Linked DNA regions of Homo sapiens: region 2 is linked to region 1. A link means that fine-mapping ties the variant in region 1 to the expression of a gene that starts in the linked region. Tissue or cell type: skeletal muscle. Region 1 holds a variant in brackets; the other region holds the start of a gene. All regions are shown on one strand. Distances are from middle to middle.

Region 1 (2,677 bases):
GCCGGATCACGCCCCTCAACCCCTCTGGGCCCCCTGACCTCTGCAGGGCCCCAGAGAGCTCAGGGAAGAGCAAGGGACCCTCTTTCCGCAATCAGGGAGGTCTTCTGGGAGGAGACAATGGGCTTCCAGGCCTCTGGAGTTAAGGAAGTATTTGCCAGGTGCTAAGCGGAAAAGAAGATTCTGAGAGGCAGAAACGGCATCTATAAAGGCCCCAGGGTAAAGCTGCAGAGCCTGTTTCTGAAGCAGCCAGGAATCGGGTGTGGTGGGCACTGGGTCACCTGGGGGACACCTGGGGAAAATAAGAATTAGAGACTTGGGGGAGGCGTGGGGAATGGAGGCTTGGAATGCCTAGCTAAGGGGTTTAGATGGCATTCTGGCCATGGTTTTCAAAGTAGGTGTCATGGAACCCTGACGGTGCCAAGGGTGGCCTCAGAGCTACCTGGTGCAGGGGGGTCGGGGGGTGAAATGTGGAGAAAGAGGAGACGCAGGGCTGGAATTCTGGGCCTCTGGCCCCCCTCCAGCCAGAATGACTCCAATCTCACGCGAGTTCTGAACTGTGCTGTCACAAGCATTGGGGGAGCCGTGGTGAGCAACAGGGGCCTTCAGCAGCAGCAAGGGACAGCCCAAATGGCCAAATGGAGCTTTAGGAAGCCAATGGAACTTCAGGGGTCAAGTGGCCCCCCAGCCACCTCTGCTTAGGTTCTCTGGCCTGACCATTTCTTCCCAGGCCACCAGGAGGTAATAATGATAATAATTAATAATAACCTGACCATCACAGCGCCACCAGCTGGGGAACTCGAGAATCCAGGAGAGGAAGAGACGCCAAACGAGGGTCACCAGCCAGTTCGGTGGCACAGCTGGGATACGGACCCAGAATCAGCTCCCCCATGAGGGCCTGGCCCCCCTCGGGCAGCCTGGAGCAGTTGCTGCAGGATCCCATCCCTGGCTGGGGCCTCGTGCCGCCAGCAGCCCCCTCCGCCCACCTGCCCTCCCAGCTGTCCCAGTCACACCCGGCACCCATGTGCCCTGTGGAAATCTGACCAGCCTCGCAGCGCCCTCCAAGGAGACAGCTGACGGATGGGGCTTGGGAGAGTGGGGGTCATGTGGGAAGCAGAGCTCAGGCCAGAAAG[C/T]GGGAGCCGCCCTGGCCGGGCAGGGAGACACTGGCAGTTTCTGCTTGCCGTGTGACCTTGAGCTCCTTGCTGAGCCTCTCAGGGCTGGCAAGGGCTGCTCTGAGCCACCTGGAGCTGGGGCTAAGTACAGGCAACTTGTGGGTTCCCGGGTCCATGGGCTCACACCTGGAACTTGGCACCGGCCTCCATTGGGCACCCCCCAGACCCCCACCCTGTGGGCCAGAATGATGGGATCTGACTGGCTGTGTGAGTCCAGGCTAATGTATCGGCTTGTCTGGGCCTCAGCTTCCTCATCACAAAGTTGAAAGTGTTGGCAGCTGGGGTGCCGTGCAGTAGCCCGGCCCCTCCATTCAGAAGCTTGTCTCAGCAGCCCCACACCTCCCCCAGGCCCTGAAATGCTTCAATGGCCATTTTGTATCAGGCCAGGGAACTGATGTTTGCTCAGCTGCCCCCACCCCTGAGACTTCATGATAATGGACTCCTGCCAGCCCAGGGCCCCTGTGTCTGGGGGTAGGGGTGGGTAGGAAGCCCTCCTCGGCCTGTCTGGGGCATTGCCCTTCCCTTCCTGACCAGTAGGGGTAGGAGGAACATCGAGTCATTTCCTCTCCCATTTCTTTCCAGAAGTTCAGGCCTAAATCTCAGCCTTCCACTGCCCGCAGCTGTGCCGTTCTATGCAAGTCTCCATTGCGCACTCTGCGAGGGCTTAGCATCCATCCAGACCTGGGTTCAAATCCCCACTTGAGGCTGGGTGCAGTGGCTCATGCCCACAATCCGAGCACTCTAGGAGACCAAGGCAGGAGGACTGCTTAGAAGCCAGGAGTTCAAGACCAACCTGGGCAACATAGCAAGCACCCATCTCCACAAAAAATAAAAGATAAACATTTAGCAGGGGCCAGGCACGGTGGCTCATGCCTGTAATCCCAGTACTTTGGGAGGCCGAGACGGGCAGATCACTTGAGGTCAGGAGTTCAAGACCAGCCTGGCCAACATGGTGAAACCCTGTCTCTACTAAAAATACAAAAATTAGTTGGGCATGGTGGCAGGCACCTGCAATCCCAGCTACTCGGGAGGCTGAGGCAGGAGAATTGCTTGAACCCAGTGAGAGGTGACAGCGTGCTGGCAGTCCTCACAGCCCTCACTCGCTCTCGGTGCCTCCTCTGCCTGGGCTCCCACTTTGGCGGCACTTGAGGAGCCCTTTAGCCCACTGCTGCACTGTGGAAGCCCCTTTCTGGGCTGGCCAAGGCCAGAGCCGGCTCCCTCAGCTTGCAGGGAGGTGTGGAGGGAGAGGCGCGAGCGGGGAACCGGGGCTGCGCGCGGCGCTTGCGGGCCAGCTGGAGTTCCGGATGGGTGTGGGCTTGGCGGGCGGGCTTGGCGGATGCACTCGGAGCAGCCGGCCGGCCCCACCGGCCCCGGGCCAGCGGCTGCAGAGGGTGTACTGGGTCCCCCAGCAGTGCCAGCCCACCAGCGCTGCGCTCGATTTCTCACCGGGCCTTAGCTGCCTTCCCGCGGGGCAGGGCTCGGGACCTGCAGCCCGCCATGCCTGAGCC
Region 2 (2,677 bases), 63 kb after region 1:
AATTTTTGTATTTTTAGTAGAGATGGGGTTTCACCATATTGGCCAGGCTGGTCCTGAACTCCTGGCCTCAAGCGATCCACCTGCCTTGGCCTCCCAAAGTGCTAGGATTACAGGTGTGAGCCACTGAACCTGGCCATCAGGGAGTCATTTCCAGAACACCCCAAGTGCTCTGGTGCTAAGTATTTTTTTTTTTTCTTTTTTTTTTTGACACGGAGTCTCGCTCTGTCGCCCAGGCTGGAGTGCAGTGGCGCGATCTCGGCTCACTGCAAGCTCCGCCTCCCGGGTTCACGCCATTCTCCTACCTCAGCTTCCGGAGTAGCTGGGACTACAGGCGCCCACCACCATGCCTGGCTACTTTTTTTTGTATTTTTAGTAGAGACGGGGTTTCACCGTGTTAGCCAGGATGGTCTCGATCTCCTGACCTTGTGATCCGCCCGTCTCGGCCTCCCAAAGTGCTGGGATTACAGGCGTGAGCCACCGCGCCCGGCCTAGTGCTAAGTACTTTACAGGCATGACCACACCGCATCTAGAGACCATCAACTGCAGGAAGTGGGTCCCATGATTCTCCCTGTATCTACAGGTGAATAGACGGAGGCTCAGATGGGCGATGGCGGATGAGAAGCGGATGTGCGACTGAACCCAGGTCGGCTTGACACCAGAGCAGATCCTCTTAGCCACAGCAGAGAACAGCTCAGACCACTTCTGGAGCTACCTAGTCCTCCAGGGGGTGCACCCGGTCCCTGGCAAGAACATCAGAGGCCAGGCGAGTGGCCAGCGCGGCTGCGTTCATCGGGTAGAGAAGACCCCCAGTCCCCAGCGGGCCGTGAAAGCCGTGGCCCAGGGCTTGCTGCAAGCCTGGGAGTCGTTGGGTAACAGTTGCCAGGAGCTTCCCCTACGAACCCCGAGTCTGGCCAGCACTCCGGGGAAATCCCCCGACCCCTCCGGGAATCGGACCCGGTCCCAGCGCCCCTTCCTCAGGCCCCGGGTCCCTAGCATCCCTACATCTCCAGCGCTTGTTCCTCCACGCGCCCCTCTCTCGGGGCCCCTGCCCCTGCGGCTTCAGTGCTGAGAAGTCCCAGGTTCGGTCTCTCAGCTCCCGGCTCCTCCGCCCTGGCCCCGGGCTCCCTCCCGGGCCGCACCCCAGCCACAGCGCCCCCTCGCGCCCCGCTACCCGCCGAGCCGCGCGGGTCCGAGGGGCGTGCGTACCTTACTGTCGGCGCGCGTGGGGCGGCCGCTCAGCAGCAGCACTAGCGGCAGAAGGAGCAGCGGCCGGGGCGGGAGGGCGGCAGCGGCCATGGCGCCACGGGCACGGTAGGCACAGGCGGCCGGGCACGGACGCTGGGAAGCGCGGGCTGCACTGCGAGCTCCGCGCCTTCGCCCGCTCTGCCTGCCCCGCGCCCCGCGCCTGCACCCTGCTGCCAGCCCCGCGGGTCTTCCAGCGCCGCCAGGGGCGGAGCTAGGGCGGAGGGGGCACCCCGCCCCGCCCCGCCCGCCGTTCGCGGGGCCTCCCCGTCGTCGGGCGGCTCTCCCAAGGGCATCCCTGCCCGCGCGCCAGGGTGGGTCTCGATCGCAGCCGGCAGGAGCAACGGGGCCAGGGCGAGGCGCGTGGGCTCCTCTCACGGACTCAGGTCCTGTCCTGTGAGTCGTGGGACCTTGGGCGTGTCCCTTCACCTGTGTGCCTCAGTTTCCTCATCTGTAAGATGGGGGACTCGTGCTTTCCTTTTGGAGTGTTTGTAAAGTTCGCATGAGAGACGGATGTTCCCAGGGCACGTGAGCCCTTGCGCTCTCCGATTTCACCCACTTCTGGACAGGGACCTGACTGCTGTAAGCCTTCCCAAGGCTCAGCAACCCCAACCTGTCTTCCGTCTTTCATTTCTCCTTCCCTCTGGAATCCCTCCTGTCGGCTCCCAAACTCCAGTAGCTTCCGGCTTTTAAATTTTTATTTTTCTCACTCTGTTGCCCAGGCCGTAGTGCAGTGGTGCGATCCCAGCTCACTACAGCCTTGACCTTCCCAGCTCAAGTGATCCTCCCACCTCAGCCTCCTGAGTAGCTGAAACTACAGGTGTGCACCACTACACCTGGCTAATTTAAAGTTTTTTTTTTTTTTGCAGAGACGGGGTCTCACTCTGTTGCCTAGACTGGTCTTGAACTTCTGGGCTCAAGCAATCCTCCCACCTTGGCCTCCGAAAGTGTTGAGATTACAGGCATGAGCCACTGCACCCAGCATTTCCTTTTTTTTTTTTGACTGGGTCTTCCTTTGTCACCCAGGCTGGAGTGCTGTGTTGCGAATACAGCTCACTGTATCGTCAACTTTCCAGCTCAAGCTATCCTCCTCCCTCAGCCTTCTGAATAACTTGGACTACAGGCATGTGCCACCATGCTGGCTAATTTCTGTATTTATTTTAGGGATGGGGTCTTCTGTGTTGCCCAGGCTCTCAAACTCCCGGGCTCAAGCAATCCAGCCACCCTAGTCTCTCAAAGTGTTGGGATTACAAGTGTGAGCCACCATGCTTGGTCTCATTTTCTTCATAGAATTTATTGCTCAATGGGACTGTCTTTCTTGTTGGTGTGTTTGTTTCCTTGTGTTGGAGCATGACTTCCTAGGGCACATTCTTAGTTTCTCCCCATGAACATTGAACTCAGTGGTTCTCAAAGTGTGGTCCTTGGTCTCAGCCTC

Evidence for each region. PIP is the estimated chance that this variant, and not a neighbour inherited with it, causes the effect.
Region 2: it holds the start of OLFML2A, and the variant in region 1 is fine-mapped to the expression of OLFML2A in skeletal muscle (GTEx, PIP 0.98).

Annotation. Positions count from the first base shown.
Region 1 is chr9:124,838,839-124,841,515 of GRCh38, reverse strand. No RefSeq gene overlaps it. Among named protein-coding and RNA genes, the nearest start is that of WDR38, 13 kb to the left of the region's middle. RefSeq lists enhancers at 558-1,160, 1,161-1,764. The variant C/T (reference allele first, on the strand shown) is at 1,131.
Region 2 is chr9:124,775,890-124,778,566 of GRCh38, reverse strand. It overlaps OLFML2A (olfactomedin like 2A), which reads right to left and starts at 1,434. Exons shown (of 8, transcript NM_182487.4): 1 at 1,207-1,434. The coding sequence starts at 1,296. RefSeq lists silencers at 1,061-1,360, 1,431-1,530.